4 separate regions of the Homo sapiens genome follow, and regions 1, 2 and 4 are each linked to region 3. Evidence: fine-mapped QTL for protein levels in blood plasma. A gene starts in region 3. Each other region holds a variant in brackets. All regions are shown on one strand. Distances are from middle to middle.

Region 1 (5,142 bases), 23 kb after region 3:
GGTGTGTTCCTGAGTCCTAGGGTCTGCGGGCTGGGGCTGTAGGGGGCGTCTTGTTCTTGCCTAGCATTTCCCCACTGACTGTATTTTCTGGCCAGCAGCTGTGGTGCGTGGCTGGGGACTGAGTCAAGGATCTGGGGGGAGGGATTGGTCGGGTGTGTGCGTGGGACTGTGCGTGTGAGACCGCCCAGGGTGTGTACTGGCACGTGGGCATGCTGTGGGTGAGACAGCGTGTGTAACTGCATAGAGGATTATGGGGCATATTGCCTGACGTGCCCTGGTGAGTGTGACCGAGTGGGTGTGGGGCTGTGCATGTGTGTGTGTGGGCACGAGGGCTCACTCAGAGGACCTGCCTCAGAATGCAGGTGAGGATGGAGGATGGAGTGGCCCAGCAAACACGTGTGGGGCTGTCAGCGACTCCAGGTCAACACCTGTGGCGCCCAGCGACTAGACACTCACCTGTGTGTGATCTGACCCATGTGTGGCGGAGCCTGTGTGTGTGTGTGAGGCAGTGCTTAGTGTGCTCCTGGGGATGAGCGCATGCGTGTGAGGTGGCTGAGGCTGGGCCCCTGCCCGCGTGCGTGCCGGTGTGCACCGTGTCTGTGTGTGCACACCCAGTACTGACAGGCTTCCTTTCTGATTCCCCCAGGGTCTTACAGGAGAGGGGACCGTCCTGGGCTGGCCTGGACCATGGTGCTGCTCTGGGAGCCTGCAGGAGCCTGGCTTGCTCTGGGCCTGGCCCTGGCCCTGGGCCCCAGCGTGGCCGCAGCTGCCCCTCGGCAGGACTGCACGGGCGTGGAGTGCCCGCCGCTGGAGAACTGCATTGAGGAGGCGCTGGAGCCGGGTGCCTGCTGTGCCACGTGTGTGCAGCAGGGCTGCGCCTGCGAGGGCTACCAGTACTATGACTGCCTACAGGGTGGCTTCGTGCGCGGCCGCGTGCCCGCCGGTCAGTCCTATTTTGTGGACTTCGGGAGCACTGAGTGCTCCTGCCCACCAGGCGGCGGCAAGATCAGCTGCCAGTTCATGCTGTGCCCGGAGCTGCCGCCCAACTGCATCGAGGCTGTAGTGGTGGCTGACAGCTGCCCACAGTGCGGCCAGGTGGGCTGCGTCCACGCGGGCCACAAGTACGCCGCTGGCCACACTGTTCACCTGCCGCCCTGCCGGGCCTGCCACTGCCCTGACGCCGGTGGAGAGCTCATCTGCTACCAGCTCCCCGGTTGCCACGGGAACTTCTCAGATGCCGAGGAGGGTGACCCCGAGCGACACTACGAAGACCCCTACAGCTATGACCAGGAGGTGGCCGAGGTGGAAGCAGCAACAGCCCTGGGGGGTGAGGTCCAGGCGGGTGCAGTCCAGGCAGGCGCAGGGGGCCCCCCAGCTGCTCTGGGAGGTGGGAGTCAGCCACTGTCCACCATCCAGGCACCCCCCTGGCCAGCTGTCCTCCCCAGGCCCACAGCGGCTGCTGCCCTGGGTCCCCCAGCCCCAGTGCAGGCCAAAGCTAGGAGAGTGACCGAGGACAGTGAGGAGGAAGAAGAGGAGGAGGAGGAGAGAGAGGAAATGGCTGTCACTGAGCAGCTGGCAGCAGGTGGCCACAGGGGGCTGGATGGGCTGCCCACTACAGCCCCAGCTGGACCCAGTCTTCCTATCCAGGAGGAGAGGGCAGAAGCTGGGGCAAGGGCAGAAGCTGGGGCAAGGCCTGAAGAGAACCTCATCCTGGATGCCCAAGCCACGTCCCGCAGCACTGGGCCGGAGGGCGTGACGCATGCACCGAGCCTGGGCAAGGCTGCTCTCGTCCCAACTCAGGCCGTGCCTGGCTCTCCCAGGGACCCAGTCAAGCCCAGCCCCCACAACATCCTGTCCACATCACTGCCTGATGCAGCCTGGATCCCACCCACCCG[A/G]GAAGTGCCCAGGAAGCCGCAAGTTCTGCCCCATTCCCACGTGGAGGAGGACACAGACCCCAACTCTGTCCATTCTATCCCCAGAAGTAGCCCTGAAGGTAAGACCCTGTCCTGGTTCCTTCAGGGCACTTTGTGTGGGAAGGGCAGCCTTGGGCTCTGGCCGCTGCCCCAGGTCTCTGCCTGGGGCTGGGGATGCTGGACTGTGGGGCCAGGCCTAGGGTGGCCACCCCAGGCCCTTGGTTTGGGCAGGAGGCTGTGAGAGTGCATCTTCTCCCAGGCCCAGCTCTTGGGATGGGATGGGTGGGTGGGAGTGGGGTTCCTGTTGTGGGAGGTGCTGGGCCCCCTGGTAGGGCTGCGGTAGTGGTCAAGGGTCCAGAAGGTGCACATCTTCAGAGCTGGGGGCCCTGAGGAGGGTTCCTGCCTCAGCCCGGTAGGCCCCCACGTGTCCTGGCAGGAAATGCGAAGGGCGGTCTCTTCTCAGCTGCCCCGGTGGCTGGCCTGTGGCCTAGGAGCCTAGCATGGCCACCTCTGCCAATTTTTCAACAAATGTCAGCCAGAAAGCTGAATTTTATGTGACATCTTCCCATTTCTAAGTGTCTGCAGCAAATCCTAATCTCACAAGCATGTGTTGTAGAAAGAAGTGAACTCGTGGACAGAGGCGAGGTGGGTGGGCCATTTGAGCAGGGGCGCTGGCCATGCTGGGCCAGTGGAGGTGGTGGGGCCACACCAGCTGTACCCTCACTCCATGGAGGCCCCTCTCCGAGCTGGTCAGGCAGCTTCCCATCAGTCCTTCCAGCAGCACCGAGTGCTTACTACTATGTACGCTGTTTCACCAGTGAGGCAACTGGGGCTCGAGGGTGGTGCTGGAGGCTCAGGTCACACAACCAGTGAGCAGTGGGCCTGGAAGGCCCTGGAGCCTGCACTCCTGACCCTATATCCTCCAAGCCACCTGCCACAGAGTTCAATACACTCCATCGGGCACATCAGAGCAGGCAGCCAGGACCAGGGCACCCAGGCTTCAGATAGGGACCGGCCCAAGGCTGTGCAGAGGCTGGTAGGCGGCCCAGGCCTCTTCTTGCCCATCCATGCCTGCTCCCAGCAGGTCCTCCATAGCCCAGCACAGTCAGACACCCCATTTGAAGACCCCATGAGCTGTGGCGAGAAGGGGAATGGTCCGCTGAGCCTACCTAAGAGCCGTCCTCAAAGGGCGCTGCTGCTAAGCAGGGGCCACAGCCCCCACGAGGCTGACCCCTTCCTGCTTACTTTAGGAGCCTTGAACTCCTGCAGGGGGTGATTCTGTCACAAGAGCTGGGGGCTTGCAGATCCAGAAGCCTGGTCTAGCTTCCATGGGGACCTGGGGTGATGCTCCTAAGACCCCACGCAGGTTTGAAACCCCCGTGGGCCAACACTGGAGAGGAGAGGCTTCAGGAGTCCTCTAGCAAACAGGTTAATCTGGGTGGATAACCCTGTGCTGCCACAGCCTAGGGAATCTGGGGGCCTCACAGACCCACAGACATTGGAAAGGCCCAGAGCTCCGTCAGTGTGAGAGGGGACAGCCCCGCACCTGGGGGGAGCGCCTCAAACACAAATCAGATCATGCCACCTTCTGCCCTATATGGCTCCCTCCGGCCGGCCCCTCCCCAGCCTCTTCTCACACCAGTCAGAGCTTCCTTTCAATCAAGTTCAATTCCCTCTGGCTAAGGGGCCTTTGCACGTGCTGTTTCCCCCGCCTGGAGCACCCCCTTCTCACCACTGCCCACTTATCACCTCATCCTCTACATTGCAGCTCAAGTGGAAGCTCAAGACTCCCTGCAGGGAGCCTTCCCTGACCCCCAGGAGGAGTCAGATCCCCTGAGTGAGGCTCACCACTTCACTCCTCAGCTCGTATCACTGCTCAGAACATCACACCTCTGTGACTGCTGGGGTCTCTATCTCCTCCTCAAAGCCCCAAGCTCCCCAAGGTCAGGGTCTCTGCTGGGTTTTGTGAACCCTGTACATTCAGCATCTTACCGGCTCCTGTGCACATGCTGGGCACTCAGAAGCCACTGTCAGAGGGTGGGCCGGGCGTGGTGGCTCACGCCTGTAATCCCAGCACTTTGGGAGGCCAAGGTGGGTGGGTCACCAGAGGTCAGGAGTTCGAGACCAGCCTGGCCAACGTGGTGAAACCTCAAATCTACTAAAAATACAAAATTAGTCTGGCGTGGTGGCAGGCGCCCGTAATCCCAGCTACTTGGGCGGCTGAGGCAGGAGAATCACCACCTGGGAGGCAGAGGTTGCAGTGAGCCAAGATTGTGCCATTGCACTCCAGCCTGGGCGACAAGAGTGAAACTCAAAAAAAAAAAAAAAAAAAAAAGGGAACCACTGTGAGAGGTTGAAGAGCTGAAGAAGGCAGAAGAGAAGCCTGCTTCCACCACTTTCTGCCCCTGTGTCCACAGGCGGTGGCCTGAGCTCCCTGTAGCCCACTCTCCACTCCTGTAAACTAAGAGGGCTGTTGTGAGGACTACGCGGCTCAGCAATCACAGAGCGCCGAGCACGGTGCCTAACAGAGTCACCGTGTTGAGGGGCGTCTGCAGTGGACAGCAGCAGTCATTTGAGTTTTAGGGTTTCCCTGTTAGCCAGAGCATCACAGCATTCAGATACTCCTGCCCTGCAGAACCTGCGTGTGTGAGGCCCTGAGGAAGGGGCCCCTTTCCTGCCATGCATTCCTGGGGCCACAGGCTGTGCTGAGAGGCCTTCTGCAGGTCAGGGGCTGCCCCCAGCTGCTCTGGGAACCTCCGACCTCCTGAGGGCCGCCCTGCCCGAGGGTTCCTCCGTGTGGCCCTCCATTGTGCCAGCCCTGCGGGAAAAGCCGCCCTCACGAAGCCCCTTGAGTGACAACAGACGTCAGACCCCTTCTTCCCAGCCCAGGGAGCCGGGCATGTGGCTTCCATTAGGCCACATCTGGACATGCTCAGAGGCAGGGATGGCCTGGCCGAGGCAGTCTGGATCCCTGGCAGGGCTCCAGCTCAAAGACAGGACCCCCAGCCCAGCCAGGCCTGGGGCACTGGCTGGAAACCCCTTCTCTAGGCCCCAGGGCTGCCATGGCAACGCGGCTGGAGGGGTCACTTCTGGCCCCATTACCTCCCTTTCTGCAGGGCCCAGGGCTGAGCAGGGCAAAGCCACCTCCCCAGCTTCTCCTCACCAAGGGCTGCTCCATCATCTAGATCCCCCAAGGCCTCCCCCAACAACAGCAGCCAGGGGCGCTAGG
Region 2 (5,142 bases), 31 kb before region 3:
CAGTAGATTTGTGTATTGATTAAAATAATTTTCTAGTAGGCACTAGTAAAGTATTTTGAAGAAGTGGAGCCTTTTTCTAATTTGCAAACAATTGCTGCAAAGGCTAGTGACCATGCCATAATCAAGACCCTGATTTTAATCCTTGAGTCCCCAGAGCTTCTCTAGCTCGATAAGTACTTGGTGTAATTTATTATTTTGGTGAATTCCCTTTGTTGTTAAGTTCTGCTCACAGCAGAACCATTGATAACTCAGACACTCACAAGATGCATCAAGCTTATTTTCTACTTTCCAGAGCAAACCCTTAGCGCTTTTAGAAATAACAGCTCAACAATAAGAGAGAGACAGAACAACCGTTAAATGCAGACATAAGAACAAGAATAACAACAAAATATCAGTTTGGGGCCATTTGTGTAGGTGCAAGTAACGTTCCCTATCTCACTGAGCACCAAGACCTTCACTGTACTGGTCTGTGGCCTGAAAATGGTTCACCATGGTAATTAACGCAGAGAAGACATTGTGTAGACTTCATGTCCTCTTAAAATAGTTAAATTATAACTGTGTTGTTGTCTAAAAGGAAAGACCAAAATTATCTAGAGAGTTCTCATCTGTGTGGCTTAAGCTAGATGAATAACGTATCATTGTAAAAGGATAGTGTCAGCCAAGGTCCAGCCCCCAGCTGTCCCCAGTGTAGGAGGTGGCCCCACTGGCAGCATCCCTGACACCACTCTGACCTGCTCAGGACAGCTCTTTCTCACTCCCCTAAATGCCAGGAGTTTCCAGAAAAAGTCTGGGGGAGGCTGTGGGCTCTGGGGTCAGACACTCTGGGGTGGGGTCCCTTTCCAGCAAGGTGACTCTCAGCAAGTGGTTCCCCGACTCGGAGCCTCGGCTACCGCTTCTCTAAAATGGCAATGGCCATACCCACCTGGGGGGCCATTGGGAGGGTCGGGCGGGCCTGGGAATGACCCAGCACACAGTAGGTGCTCAATGAGAAGCAGCTGGCACCAAGGTGGGATCTGGGTGAGTTCAGAGCCCAGGCACGAGGGCTCAGAATCTCAGCTCGGCCTTGCTGAGTGCTTGGGCGATTCACTTCGTCTCCCAGAGCCCCAGTTTCCTCAGCTCAAACTGAGATCCCCAGGGAGTTGAAACAAGCAAGCATTCTTGAGACTGTGTGTTTCCTTGCCTGTTCTTCCTGCCAGGCAGTAAAGGGGCAGGATTGGGTCTGTCCCTGACTCGACCCCCGGAACAGGGCCTGCGGTGCTTAGTAGGCGCTTGGTAAAGACTCAGTCATTTGCTCCAGTCGGGAGGGAAGTTGGCTGGTGCCTGCTGGGGGGCTCCCCCTGCCCTTCTGACTGTGGGGAGCAGGCCCAGAGCCGACTTTGGCCAGGCCGGGGTAGAGGCCTGCTTCTGCCATCCCTGGTGGGCCCCAGCGTCTCCTCTGAATCCCCACCCTGCTCCTGAGCAAGTGCTCCCATCCCCCACCCTGCTCTGGCGGCTTGGCATAGGTGGGACACCAAGCCTGGAGCTCCCGGCTGCTCCAGCCACCCGAGCCAGCCCCACAATTGTTTTTCCACCTGGAGCGTCCAAGGAGTTGCTGGCAGCCAGGCCAGGCGGGGGAGGCGGGGGGCGGTGTTGGAGGAGACATCAGTGGGCGTGGGAGGAACAGGCTTCACCCTTTCCATCCACAGGGGTACCGGTACTGGGATAAACTGGACGGCACTGGTCAGGGCCCACTTTCCTTTGACCTTAGGTGAATGACTTAACCGCCCCAGTCTCATTTACTTCATCCATAAAATGGGGATAATATTAGTAGCTGCCTCTTGGGGTTGCTGTGAGGAATAAATGCGTCAGCTCATGTAAAGCACTCAGAACCATGCCCAGAAGCAAGTGGTCTTGATGGCAGCCCTTGCTATAGGCACTCTAGGCTGGATGCGAGGGTTCTGCCGCACACAGCTGCCTGGTGTGGGCCAGCCACGTCCACTGTCTCTGCGTACCATGTGCACCCACAGCAAGCCTCCGGAGGTGACAGCCCCTCACAGAAGCTGCAGGAAGTAGAAGCGGAGTGGGTGGCAGCTCCCTCCCTTGCTTCCTCAGCTTTCTCTCCCCTTCTTTCTTCCACCAGCCTGGCAGGTGCCCCCAGAGGCAGGGGATGGGTCCCCTGACCTCGGGGAGGACCCCCAGCCCCATCAGCCGCGGAAATGGTGGACCCGCGGGCCCTGGGCTACTGCCATGCTGCAGCCCTCGGAGGAACTGAGCAGGGACAGGGCCAGCCTGGGTCACCCGATGCAGCTGCACAGATGTCAGGCCCGGCATAGCCGAGGTGTGGTCAGGCTAGGTTCCCCTGGGCCCCGCTATGGGAACAGGCTGTCCCGACAGCCTGGCTGCCATCCCTTGCTGCTGTTGTTTGGAAGATAGAGCAGTCATCAGCCCCAGCCCCCGGCAGCCCCACCCTCCCCT[C/T]GGCTTCTGCAGCTCCCAGGCCTGGGACAGTCCCTGGCTGACCCAGGTTGTGCACTGGGTGGCCTGAGGCAGGCCCTGACCCTCTGTCGGCCTCCATCTTTTACCTCTACTGAGAAACCGGGGGCGGAGCCCTCTGTCCCTGCTGCCCTTCCAACTCAAGGCCCAGGAAAAAGGACAGGAGGCACATGGTGGGGTCCGGGGCCAGGGTGCTCACATGTGCTTAGTGAGCACCAGGAGCCACCTTAGAAGGAAGGTGAGGGATCTGTAACCTTGGTCAGGACAGCCACACAGGAACTGTCTCCTGGACCCAGGAGGAGCAGCAGGACCCAGCCTTCTAGGCAGCAAGGGAAACTGAGGCAGGAGCCCAGTTATAGGGCCTAATAAACTTGATCCAGGAGGAGGCAGCTACTGCGTGGAGACTTGGGCTCCAAGGTCCTTGTGAATCCAGGGTCCAAGACCATCGACCTCCAGCCCTACCCACTGATGGGAAGGAGGCTGCCATCTTTCCCATGCCCGCTCAAGTGAGGCTCAGGCCCCAAGCATGGCAGGCTGGTTTCAGGGGCATTGAAAATGGGTCCTGGGTTCAATCCTGCCTGTGCCACTTCCTGGCTGTGTGACCTTGGGCAGGTCCTTTCTCTCTTTTTCTCCATTTCTTCTATAAAGCGGGACAGTAATGCCACCAACACAATGCCGTAGAGGTAAAGCTTGGCTGTCATGTACACCAAAGGCTTGGTCTGCAGTCTGACCTCTGTGCCTCTGTCTTCCTCCACCTCCCCTTATCCATCCAGAGGGCCCGAGGAAGGAAGCAGGCACGGGTGGGGTTTGCTCTGGCACTTGCTTCGGAGTCCTTGGATACCTCCAGGCAAGTCCTTGATGCTTTTCCCAAACGATGCCAGCCCAGGGATGGATTCTCTGCCTATGGGAACTTGGGTCCATCCCAGGAATGTAGGCCAGACGGTGGGGAGGAGAAAGTGCAGGGTGGAGGCTCGGCCAGCGTTCTACCAAGGTCTCTCGGGCACGAGGTGAAGAGTGGGCACCCGCCTGCAGAGGCAGTGCCAGGGACTGTCGGCCTGGGCTCAGCACAAATGTTGTGGCTGCCCCCCCAAGGGTTGGTGGCAGGAGGCCCGGGGAAGCCTGCAGGCGGGAGCAGATATGTTCTGCTTGGAAGGATGCTTGGGACAAAGCCAGCTCCGGGAGCTCCTCGTGTGGCTGGACACATGGGGCAATTCCTGGGCTAGGGGAGGAAGGCGGCGCCTGCTGAGGGGAGGGAGGGCATCTTGCCAGGGTTGGCAGAGTCTAGGGCCTGGGAGCTGGGACCAGGCATCAGGGCCTGGGGCCAAGGCCTTGGGAGGGCTGGCGAGACCCAGGCAGGCCCCAGCCCGTGGGCCTCGCAGACCAGGACTCTGGGTTCACTGTGCCTTGGGTGTCGCACACTCAGCCCTGAGTTGTCCTCAGGGCTGGTCCTTCCCTTCCCCGAGGCTGACCCTGGAGGGGCGGCTTCCTGGGTTGGGGGAAGCTTGGTGACAGTGCTTCGGCTGACTTTGTCTCCAGAGTCCCCTCTTCCCTCCCCAATGACTCCAGACCTCTGGGGGTGGGCGAGGCCGGGTATCCTTCCCTCCTCTGATACCCTGGCCCCAGCATTACTGGAAGTCCTGCCCCCAGGTCCTATGACACACAGGGCTGGACTGTTTGGAAGACATTCTAATGAGGACAAGAGGGAAATAAACACGGAGAGTCTGGGGAGTGGGACAATGGTGTGTGTGCGTCTGTTGGGAAGGCCTTCCTGCAGTGGTGCTGATGCTGCCGCCCGATACCCACAGGATTAGGCTGAGACTGCACTGCCCCTACCCCGAAACCCCATCTTTGCCGCTCCTGCCTCCCTGGCTGCCTGGCAGGCCTCTCCCAGCACTGCGGGAGTTCTGCCCCCATTCTCCTCCATCTCCTCTCCCAAGAGGCAGCCAGGCTGAGATTGGGGGCCCTTTCCCTCTTTGGTCCCCCGTCAGGAGGTGGGATGAGGTCCCCAAGGAGTCCCCACCCATTTGCAGCCTGAGCATTGGAGAGACTGCTGGGGCTGGGGCGGGGCCAGGGAGCTGGGCACCCACAGCGACCCCAATGGACCTCAGAGCGCCGCAGCCCCTGTCTCAGCTGCAGGAACATGGAGAGCGTGGGTGGAGCTCCATGCTAGCTTGCAAGTCCTCTAGCTCCGACAAGAATCAAGCCATCAGCTTCTCTTCCTCCTAGAGAGGTCCACTGGCTGCAGAGCCTCCAAGTGTCTGGACCCAGAGCTTCTAGCCCACCCTTGAGCAGCCCAGCAAACTCAGTGCTCTGAAAGCTCAGGGGCTTTCGGCCTGAGGAGCTATTCCAGCCCAAGAGGGCTTCCTGGAGGAAGAGACGTTTGAGCTAAGCATTCTAAGCAGAAGGAACAGCATGTACAAAAGCCCAGGGGCACGAGAGAGCAGGCCCCTTCCAGAAGTGGTGGGTGGCCATGGCTAGAAGCCTGGGAGACTGAGGACAGGGAAGAGCTTTGGTATTTTGGATGCCTTCTCCCCACTTCAGGCCTCATCTTGTTTTGGTCTTCCCCAGCCCCTGACCTGGGCCCCTCCCTGGCTCTGCTACTTGCTTGTTGTTAGTCTTGAGCCAGTTACCTTTTCTCTCTGAGTCTCAGTTTCCCTATCTGTAAAATGGGGT
Region 3 (5,142 bases):
AAACAATCCTATAAGGCAGGAACTTCTTTATAGGCTAGGACACTGAGGCCAGAGGGTTGAAGCCACCTGCTGAAGGTCATACAGGGAGGATGTGGATTTAAATCAAAGCCATTGGGTCCCAGAACCCATGCTCCAACGTAGGCAGCCTCCCCAAGGCTACCCAGTGAGGATGCAGACCCAGGAAGCTCAGCAAGGCTTCTCTTCCCAATCCAGGCTGCACAGGTGGGACAAGTGAGCCTCATGCCTGCTGGCCCTGGCGCCTCAGTGCCCAGGGAGCTGGTGAGATTGTCACTGATGTAAATAACTTCGCTGCCCACTGTGATCATTCTGTCTAGGCCTTATCAGCCTGACTTCCTCCAACCATTTCTCAGCCAGGCCCTGGGCCCCAAATTCCTGGTGGGTGATGCGTGCTCTGTCTGCGATAACAGTCTTGGAAGGGCTCTGAAGGGACAGCCGCTTTGGCCGCATCTCCGGCTCAGATAACAGGACGGGAGAAGTGTCTCCACTTTATCTTGTGGAAGGCGGGCCAGGCCTTGGGCTCCCTGGGCTGCAGAGTGAGCTGCATCTGGCTCAGTGCCTCTCCTCCCAGGCCTGGGGAAGGGAGCCTCATTAGCAGCTGCCCAGGGTCTCTATCACCCCAGGCCACTGCCCCTCCTTCCCCCACAGGAGGAAGGATTCAATCTGTCATTTACTCATCAGATATTTACTGAGCACTCCCTTGGGTCAAGTCCCATCCAAAGTACAGATAATCCCTGACTTACGATGGTTCGATTTAGGATTTTTTGAATTTAGGATGTTGAGAAAGTGGTACACACCCAGGAGAAACCCTACTTGGAATCCCCAGGCAATCATTCTGTTTTTCACTTTCTGTGCAGTATTCAATGAGTTACATGAGATATTCAATGCTTCATTATAAAATAGGCTTTGTATTAGATGATTTTGCCCACCCGTAGGCTAGTAATGGAAGTGTTCTGAGCACATTTAAGGTAGGCTTGGCTGAGCTATGATGTTCTGTAGGTTAGGTGGATGAAATGCATTTTCAACTTACTATATTTTCGATTTACGATGGGTTTATGGGGACATGATCCCATTATAATCGAGGAGCATCTGTACTTTCGGTTTGGCTCATTTCGGTTCATTTGATCTTTCCAATAACATTATAAGATAGGCTTTGATGTCGTTATGTTCATTTTACAGTTGAGGAAATAAAGCCCAGAGAGGTGAAGTAACTTGCCCAAGGTCACACAGCTGGTGTGTGGTGACTTTCTTAATGACCAGGTGATCCTACCTATAGTCATTTATAAATGAATAAGAGAAATCAGCCAGTGACAAGTACTGTAATAACAGTGCGGCCGAGTCCCAGGGTGGAGAGTGGTAGTTGCTACCTCTGCTGGGGTCTCAGGGAGGGCTTCTCTGGGGGTGGTGGGATTTCAGCTGCATCTTAATGCAGGGATGAGTCAGCCACGGTGGATCTGGGGAAGAGCATCCCAGGCAGAGGGAACAGCAATGGCAAAGGCCCTGAGGGAACAGCAAGCACAGAGCTCCAATGGGGAAACGGGCCCAGAGGGAAGGCACCTGCCTGGGGTTAGACACAAGTTGGGGCAGGCCAGGCACAGGCTGCCAGCTCAGGCTTTGGCCCCTCCATCCGCTCCTGGCTTCTCTGTGGGTGGCCCCATCTAAGCCAATGGGCCCTTCCTGGCTCCACCTCCTCTCTGCTGTGCGGCCCTGGGCAGGCAGCTGCCCTGCCCTGTGCCTTTGCTCTTGGCTGCCTCACCCCTGTCCTGGGCTGCAGGGAGACCCCTGGGGGTGGGGGCAGGCACACTTTGGGCCCATGGCTGCTGCTCAGATGTGAGGTGGTGACCACCAGGCCATACGTCTCTGGACAGGGATGGGAGAGACTCAGAGAGACACAGAGACCAAGAGATAAAGTCAGAGGGAGATGCAGAGACCAAGAGGGACAAACCAAGGGAGACAGAGAGATGACATTAGATCAGAGATGGAGACCCCGAAAGAGACCCAGAAAGGGATCGGTGTGGGCTGGGGGAAGAGACACCCCGGGGGTCACACAGTGGTCACAGGCATCAGAGCTGGGCTGAGGAAAAGGACAAACTGAACCTGTTCCAAAGCTGGGGGCTCAGTACCGTCTGCCCAGGCACATGCAGCAGCAGTGGGGCTGCAGGCAGGCCCCCAGGGTAGGAAGCAAGGCGGGTGGGAGGCAGGGCCTGGCCTCTGGGCAGTTTTGTAGCCGGGCCCCTCAGGCCCTCACAATGTGCCCAAGGCTGCTGGGCCCATCTTCCAGGGGTGATCACTGAGGCTCAGGCTGGCTGAGGTGGCCGGACCCCAACCCCTGGCCCTGCCCTGTGGGCAGCAGTGCCAGGTCTGGCACTCAGAGGTTAGGCCGGGCGCAGGGAGGGTGCGGGCTCCGCAGCGAGCGCGCCGGGCGGCCTCTAGGAGCCGGGTCAGCGAGTCTGGGCTCTGAGCGAGCGGCGCCGGCCCGGCCCCCTCTCCGGCGGGCGGCCGAGACCCCGCCCCGGAGGCGGAGGCGGAGTCAGGGGAGGGGGCCGGGGGCCGGCTGGTCCCGCCTCTCGCGCCTCCGCCCCGCCCCGCGCGCACACAGCCAGGGGCCGCCCGGGCTCTCGACGCGCCGACGGCCGGGCGGACGGACGGACGGACGCCGAGCGCAGTGCCCCGCGGTGAGTGCACGCGGCCCCTCCCGCCCGGACTCATCCCCGTCGGTCCGCGCCTCGCAGCTCAGGACTCGGGGGCGCTCGGACGCACCGACGGCTCGGCGGACCCTCGGACGCGCCTCGCGGGCTGCCCGCGCCTCCACCCGCGCCGCCGGTCCGACCGGGTCTCGCTCTCCCGGTCCCAGCGCGGGGACGGCCCGCGAGCGCCGCGACCCAGTGTACAGATGCGGGCACAGAGGCCGGCGCGGGGTGGGGGCCAGGGGTCCGCGGGCGGGTTCCCCCACCCCAGGTCCGCAGCTTCCTCCGCTCTGGGTTTCACTTCTCCCCCCTGGGCCGGCTCCCACCAGTCATCCCCTCTGGTCCCACTGCCCACCCCCACCCCGACCGCAGGACCTTGCCGCCCCTCCAGTCCAGAGGGCCGGGTCAACCCCCTCGGGGAAAGAAGACTAGAGTCCCTGGTCTAACACTACCCCCTCCATCACCCCCAAGTCACACTCACCGCCACACACGCACTCACACAAGCAGAAGTTTCTGCACGCTCTGCATTGGCGCGCCCACCCTGCCTGTCACCACATCCTCCCTCTCCCAGCCCCATGCTCACCCCGCCAGCTCCCCCAGGCCAGAATCTCTCACACTCATCTCACGTCCCCTTAGCACACAATGCTCCACACACACATGCCTTGCACATTGGCACCCCTCCGAGGCATGCCTCTAGCAGACAGTTGTGTCTCTGATAAACACATGTGCCCTTACTGCCCTCTGACACGCACACACGTCCGCCACACAGGGGTAGCTATCACATGCATATCTCCATCATATGTATCACACATGTGTCTCTCACATGCGTGTGCTCCTCAAATACCTGGAATCACAAACACTGGGAGTGCCACACACTGTGAGTCTCACATACGAGTCACAGACCCCCACGACTTCACAGTCCCAGCCCCCCTGGCACTCCATGGGCAGTCCTCCCCTGTCCTAGGGGGTGGGGAGCCGATTTTGGAGGAGGGAGGTGGTTCCTCCTGACAGAGGCTGCTTACCATGGGACCTGGGTGGCTGTGGGGAGCATGGGGGTGGCTCAGCCTCAGGCTGGGCCTGACTCCTCACCTCCGTGCATCCTCTCTCCCTTCCCCTGCTCCAGTCTCCGAAATAGGGGTGCCCTCCCTCCCTTTTTTGCTGCCACAAGGAGTTGCCCATATCAGCTTTGCAGTGATCACTTGGGCCAGTCCCAAGCAGGCCTGAGCCAGCAGGCGTCCCCTGACAGGCCAAAAAGAGAAAAAGGGAAGTCAAACAGGATGGTTTGGGTGCTTGTGTCTACCCTGATGCCCCTGAGATGCTGGTCCGGGCCCTCCCAGAGGGAGCCCTGATGAATTGGGTGGCAGCTGAGAAGTGTTCCCTCAGCCTGGCATGGATTGGGAGCTGGTGTGTGTTTGTGGCTGATAGGGGCTCTGGGCCTTAACTTCCCCATATGCCAAATGGGGTGAAGACTCCCCAGCAGGAGGAAGAGAGGGAGGGGGAGCTACTCCCCTGGGGTGCACCCTTGACTTCCCGCCCTCCCCTTCTGCAGCTGAGCTGTGTGATGGGGGTGAGCAGGGGATGAAGTCAAAGAATCTTATTCTGGAGGCACAAACCTGCCAGCCCCGGCTGTGGCTGGCCCTGCATGTTTTGTTTGGCTCTCACCATGTTATTATTATTTTAAAAAATTAATTAGCTGCCTGCATTTACAAATTGGCAGTTTTCACGTAAAAGTCCGGATTTCCGTCTTCTCTTGAAAAGTCACAAGGTCTGGTAGTTCAGGATCTGCATCTCCTGGCTGGTGCTGCCCACCCCCAACCCAGGGGATGGGGCAGGGGCGCTGTTTGGTCCCCGTCCCCACCTGGCCCTCTCATGCCTTCTCAGCTCCTGCCTGGCCTGCGTGGCCTTTGTGCGGCTGTGACTGCTGCATGCATTGGGCTGATTTTGCTCCATTGCCCGCCTCAAGCATAGGCCCAGGCTGGTCCTCCATGCATGGCTGGGGAAGCCCTGGGCGGGCCTCCTACCCTTCGAGGCCTTAGTCGTTGAAGCAATGAGTGGTGCCCAGGGCCCTGGGCCACAGGGCATCTTTGTGATGGTGGCAGACACTTCCTGCTAGGCTGTGGGGGACGGTGGTATGGGGACCCCGTGAAGCAAGAGCTCATGCCAGAGAGCATTCTCCGAGGCAGGCTTTATTCATCACTTTTCTTCCCAGATCCCGACATCCCTCCTGCAGGGTGGAACTCTTGCACCTATTTAAGAGACGGGGAAGGGGAGGTAGAGAAAGGGCCTCCCAGCAGGCAAGGGGGAGAGCTGGGGTTCAGCCCAGGATCTTTTCCCTCCAAAGCAAAGCTCTTTGCCCCTCTTACTGAGCCACTAGTGGGAGGACTTGGTCTCCTTGGCCGTGGGGGGAGTGCCCTGAGCCCATCCACACCTCACACGC
Region 4 (5,115 bases), 90 kb after region 3:
GCCTGCCTTGATCACCTCCCTCTCGTCCCAGCCCCTGACTGCTGGGTCTGTGGGCTAGGTGACCAAAACAAATATAAGTAGCTTTTAGAGAGTTCAGGGTTGAGAGAAGGAAGGGGAAAAGACACACAGAAAACACCAGCCCTCTTCCTCATACACACACATGGTAGTTACTGCTGTGTGACCAGTTATCCCAACCAACATTTAGCACCAGAATACAACAGATACTTACTCTTTGTCACGCAGTGTCTGAGGGCTAGGAGCCTGGGAGTGGTGTAGCTAGGTGGTCTGGCTCAGGATCTCAGGGGCTGCCTGTCCGGGGTGCGGGATCCTGCCACTGCTCATGGGGCTCTGGGCAGGAGGCCTCAGCTCCGCATCACATGAGCCCCTCCACAAGGCTGCTTGTGACATGCCACTCCCCAGCTCAGTGTATCAGAAGTGCCAGCGGCAGCCCCTTAACCTCACTTAACCTCAGAACTGACAGACCGCTACTCTGCCACCAGCCACACGGCCCGGCACTTGGGAGGGACCCTGGGAGGGACACTGGGTGCACTGGGAAGAAGGGAGAAGGAGGAGGAAGGGAAGGGGAGAGGGAAAAGGAAGGAGAAAGGAAGAATGGGAGGATGGCAGGAGGGAGGAAGAAAGGAGCATGGGGACAGGTAAGAGCTGTTAACGAGCCTGGCCAGTGCCATGCTAAACTCACCCATTCCAGTGAGCCGGTGAAGGTTTTATTAACCTCATCTCGCAGGCAAGGAAACTGAGACCCAGGGGACGTAAGGGGACTTGCCTGAGGCTTCCCGGCCATTAGGGAGAGAGCTGGCCCTTGATCCTGCCGCTGAGCTGTGCCATCTGTGTCCCCGTCTGGGGATGAGGGGGGTGGGCGAGCTGTGGGTGACCCGGCCTATCCTCCCTGCAGGAAGTGCGAGCGCACCACGTGCCATGACTTCCTGGAGTGCCAGAACTCGCCAGCGCGCATCACGCACTACCAGCTCAACTTCCAGACGGGCCTCCTGGTGCCTGCGCATATCTTCCGCATTGGCCCCGCGCCAGCCTTCACGGGGGACACCATCGCCCTGAACATCATCAAGGGCAATGAGGAGGGCTACTTTGGCACGCGCAGGCTCAATGCCTACACGGGTGTGGTCTACCTGCAGCGGGCCGTGCTGGAGCCCCGGGACTTTGCCCTGGACGTGGAGATGAAGCTCTGGAGGCAGGGCTCCGTCACCACCTTCCTGGCCAAGATGCACATCTTCTTCACCACCTTTGCCCTGTGAGGTGCCAGCACGGGCCACCTGCGGGTGTGGCGCAGCCCAGGGCTCACACTGCGTGGGAGGGACTGGGTCACTATTGTGGTTTTTACTATAACTTTGTAAATTAACTTAATTTTGCTGACTTGACTCCTGTGGCTTCTGGACCCCTCCTCTGCCCCGCAGGAGGAAGTTCCACGGCAGGTGGTGCGTTCCCACGCAGGCACCAAGTGGAAGCTTGCACGGTGGGCCACGGCCGTGGCGGGTGCCCTGTGGGTGAGGCTGGGTGATGACCTGAGGACCAGAGACACGCGACCATGTTGGGGCTCTTGGACTCCTCTGGATGACCCGTCCCCAAAGTTGACATTCCATTTCATGTTCCACTGTGATTAATTCTTTTCTTTTTTAAAAAATCATTTTAAAGTTTTTTGTTTAA[C/T]TATAAAGTAGTACATGTACATTATATAAAAAAAAGTTCAACTAGTATGAAAGGGTTATAAAGTAACAGAGGAAAACGCCTCTTGGTCCCTTTACTTTTGTAAAGTGTTCAGAGTTTGACAACGTTGTCCAGATGTCACAGGGCTCTATGGCCTGGCCAGCATGTCAATTCATTGATGAAGACCTTGATGTCCTTCTCAACGAGCCCCGAACCTGAAGTTCACTTTGGGATGAGGGCACCCCAGTGTGATCAGTCACTGACCAGGCTCTTTATTCTGCTTTTACCACTTCAGCTTTCCCTCCTCCTTCCTCCTCCCTCCTCCCTCCTCTGCCTTCCCCCCATGAAGACCTCCACTGATGGCCTGTCACTTGGATGTTGTCCAGAACTTGTCCTGGCCCCTGTTGCTGAGCTGTCAGGTCAGGCAGTAGACCTGGGCAGGAGCCTGAAGGAACCTGGGAAACTGAGGCCCTGAGAGCGGAAGCGATGTGCCCCCAGCCCACAGCGAGCATCAGAGCAGGTGTCGGGACCCAGCTCTGATGACCCTGCTCGGGCTCCGTGGGTCTAGAGTTAAATATAGGGGGCGGCAGCCAGCACTTTTAAAATGACGTAGAATAGAGCAGATGAGATATGAGTGCTTCACACCCTGTAAAGAGAAGAACTGCTTCACCAAACCACAGTACATGGGGCGTGTGCACCTATGCGTGGGCACGCTAGCTCTGGCTTTTGGTAGAAAGTGTTTCTCACTGTGGGTGGAGGGAAGCAGGCCTGTCGGGGCGCGCTGGGCAGCACATGCCCTGTGTGAAGGGGGCGCCTACACTTGGCTCCAGCAAGGCCGCCTTCTGGGCGCGTGGCCCGGGATGGCCAGATGTTCTCATTCCTCAACACAAACTCTCTCAGTGTTAAGAGGTGGCGACTTGCTCAGGCTTCTAAAGGACAGGTGTTTGGGAGCCTCTTGCCGGAAGCCTGCGGTGGGGGCCCTCTGTCCCTGCTCCTCGCCGGCCCCCATCCCCAAGGGTGCAGCAGAAGCCAGGTCTTCCCTGTCCCTGTCCGGGCTGTCTCTGTTCCTTCTATTTTGCTGATTTTCAGAAAAACTAGATCCGGCACCTTTGTGGTGCACAGTCCCCACCAGCGGGAACCAGTAGGTGACAGGCTCCATTCAACAGGACAGGCAGGTTAGGGACACCCCTGGCTGGCAGCAGCCGTTCCTGCTCCTACCCAGCCCCGGTTACTCCTTCTGGGACCTCAGGCAAGTGACTTCGCCTCCCCTCACTGGTCTCCCCTGTGAACAGGGGCTCCAGCTGTTCTTCCTGCACAGGCCATCGAGCCAGTAAAATGAACTTGGCACCCAGCGCATCCATACGGAGGGTCTTGGAGAACAACTTCTCTCCGGACCTTAGAGTTTCTAAGGTGATTCTAGAATTCCATGCCGGCAAGTTTGGCAAACTGCAGCTTCAGGGAATAGCCCCTACAAGACTACCCTCACTGCAGACCAAGAACTGCACACCAGAAACAAGCTCAGGCATCCCTAGGACCACCCTCACGTCTGAGCAATGGGCTACAGGTTTGGGGGTCCTTACATCCACCCTCAGGCTCATTAATTCACCTGCATGACTCAGACAGTTTATGGTGAAAGGAAGCAGGTTAAAGTCATTGATGAATTCTAGAGCAGAGTCCAGGAGAGCCCAGTCACGGAGCTCCCGTGTCCTCAGGATGCAGCACAACAGAATAGAGCTGAACAGGGCACCTTTGGGGTCCAGGTGTGTCTGGGAGCTTGACCACCTGGCTGTCAGCGTGGCTGGCCCTAAGTCTCCAGTCCCTCGCAGAGGTCAGAACTGAGGCAGCAAAGCCCCTGAAAACGCTGGTACTCCAGTGCCAGCCAGGACGTTCTGGGGGCCGAGAGCTCACCCTGCAGGCCACCCCCGGCCCCGGCCCCAGCGTTCTCGCAGTGGAATAGTCACGTTTGTCTGGGCAGCTCCTTCAGCGTTGCCTGCTTCCTCCCTTGTGGCAGGGCTGCCCGTGCCTATGAAGCATGTAAAGAACCACCGTGTGCAGGCGTTAGCCCGGGGTTGGCTCCACCTAGCTCTTCCGCAGGTGTCATTCTCCATCGTTGCTACATCCTGAGGAGGCTGGAACTCAGGGTTTCAATACATTTGCCATCACCATCAACGTTATAACCTTATCAACCGTGCCAGGTAGGACCATATTGCAGTCTGGTGGATGTCACCTAAAAAGGAAGACCGGAGTCCCACTCAGTCATAGCAGTTTATCTAGTCCATCACCACATCAGATCAGCAGATGTCCCCCAGGGTGAGGCCACTCAGGTTTGCAGGCTGCCATTCGACCTTGTCAAGTTCCAAAAGCAGAGGCGGCCTTGGCGTCACCCTTTCAGGCATCTAGTGTAGTTGAGCTGAGACGATGCCCTCCACGCCGCTCTTAAGGTAGTACTGTAATGTAGGATTCACGTAAAATTGGATTTCCCGGCCGGGCGCGGTGGCTCACGCCTGGAATCCCAGCACTTTGGGAGGCCGAGGTGGGCGGATCCCCTGAGGTTGGGAGTTAAAGACCAGCCTGACCGACATGGAGAAACCCCATCTCTACTAAAAATACAAAATTAGCTGGGTGTGGTGGCACATGCCTATAATCCCAGCTACTCAGGAGGCTGAGGCAGGAGAATTGCTTGAACCAGGGAGGCGGCGGTTGTGGTGAGCTGTGATTGTGCCATTGCACTCCAGCCTGGACAACAAGAGCGAAACTCCGTCGCAAAAAAAAAAAAAAAAAAAAAAAAAAAAGGATTTCCCTCACTACATAACCCACGTACTGGTTGCTTTACCCTCAGCTCCGGTTCCTCCTTTTCTCCATTTGTATCCAGGTATTTCCACCTTTGGAAGGGCCATGAGGTTCGGCCATGCTGTTGGGCCGGATTGTCAGAAGCAATGCCAGCCTAGCAAGTGCCTCCCTGACAGTCCACTCCGGTTGGTGTAGGATGGGGCTTCACAGGTGTAGAACTAGTGGGCTGTCTCCACCACCAGGCAATGTGCCTGCCCTCACTAGCAGCCCTGATTTTTCCGGATGGGGTGAAGGCACCATCCACTCCATCAGCCCTCAGGAGCTCTGGCATGAAGCTTTGGAGCTAGAGGTGCACCCTCCTGCCTAGGAGTCATTGCTACCTCAGCACTTGCAGCTGCAGCCCTGGTCCTGGGGCCACTGCAGCAGATAGGAAAGGAGGAAGGCGAGGTGATGTGGAGAAGAAAAGAAAAGCAGTCTTACCAGCAACCTCCCTTCCCCAGTTCTCTTAGAAAAGGCATAGGAGGCCAGGCACAGTGGCTCACGCCTGTAATCCCAACACTTTGGGAGGCCAAGGCGGGTGGATCACTTGAGGTCAGGAGTTCGAGACCAGCCTGGCCAATATGGTGAAACCCCATCTCTACTAAAAAT

Alleles and levels. Positions count from the first base shown, and alleles are read on the strand shown. Strength reflects both the effect of a copy and how common the allele is. Not every link is listed here.
In carriers of allele A in region 1, the plasma level of the protein whose gene starts at base 2,610 in region 3 tends to be higher than with G alone (strong association).

Evidence for each region. PIP is the chance, under the fine-mapping model, that this variant and not a neighbour inherited with it causes the effect. The UK Biobank Pharma Proteomics Project read protein levels with antibody pairs (Olink). The fine-mapping took linkage between variants from a reference panel, not from the people measured, so its PIPs are less certain.
Region 1: its variant is fine-mapped to the plasma level of the FBLN2 protein (UK Biobank, PIP 0.96). The variant lies in the coding sequence of FBLN2. If it changes the protein, the assay may bind it differently, which can mimic a change of level.
Region 2: its variant is fine-mapped to the plasma level of the FBLN2 protein (UK Biobank, PIP above 0.99).
Region 4: its variant is fine-mapped to the plasma level of the FBLN2 protein (UK Biobank, PIP above 0.99).

Annotation. Positions count from the first base shown.
Region 1 is chr3:13,569,669-13,574,810 of GRCh38, forward strand. It overlaps FBLN2 (fibulin 2), which reads left to right. Exons shown (of 18, transcript NM_001004019.2): 2 at 647-1,993. The coding sequence starts at 688. Among named protein-coding and RNA genes, the nearest start is that of FBLN2, 23 kb to the left of the region's middle. RefSeq lists enhancers at 1-196, 1,801-2,517. The variant A/G (reference allele first, on the strand shown) is at 1,896.
Region 2 is chr3:13,515,101-13,520,242 of GRCh38, forward strand. No RefSeq gene overlaps it. Among named protein-coding and RNA genes, the nearest start is that of FBLN2, 31 kb to the right of the region's middle. RefSeq lists enhancers at 870-1,798, 3,172-4,061. The variant C/T (reference allele first, on the strand shown) is at 2,455.
Region 3 is chr3:13,546,516-13,551,657 of GRCh38, forward strand. FBLN2 (fibulin 2) reads left to right here and starts at 2,610. Exons shown (of 18, transcript NM_001004019.2): 1 at 2,610-2,693. RefSeq lists enhancers at 3,973-4,581, 4,582-5,142.
Region 4 is chr3:13,636,649-13,641,763 of GRCh38, forward strand. FBLN2 (fibulin 2) reads left to right here. Exons shown (of 18, transcript NM_001004019.2): 18 at 914-1,756. The coding sequence ends at 1,271. Among named protein-coding and RNA genes, the nearest start is that of LINC00620, 12 kb to the right of the region's middle. The variant C/T (reference allele first, on the strand shown) is at 1,681.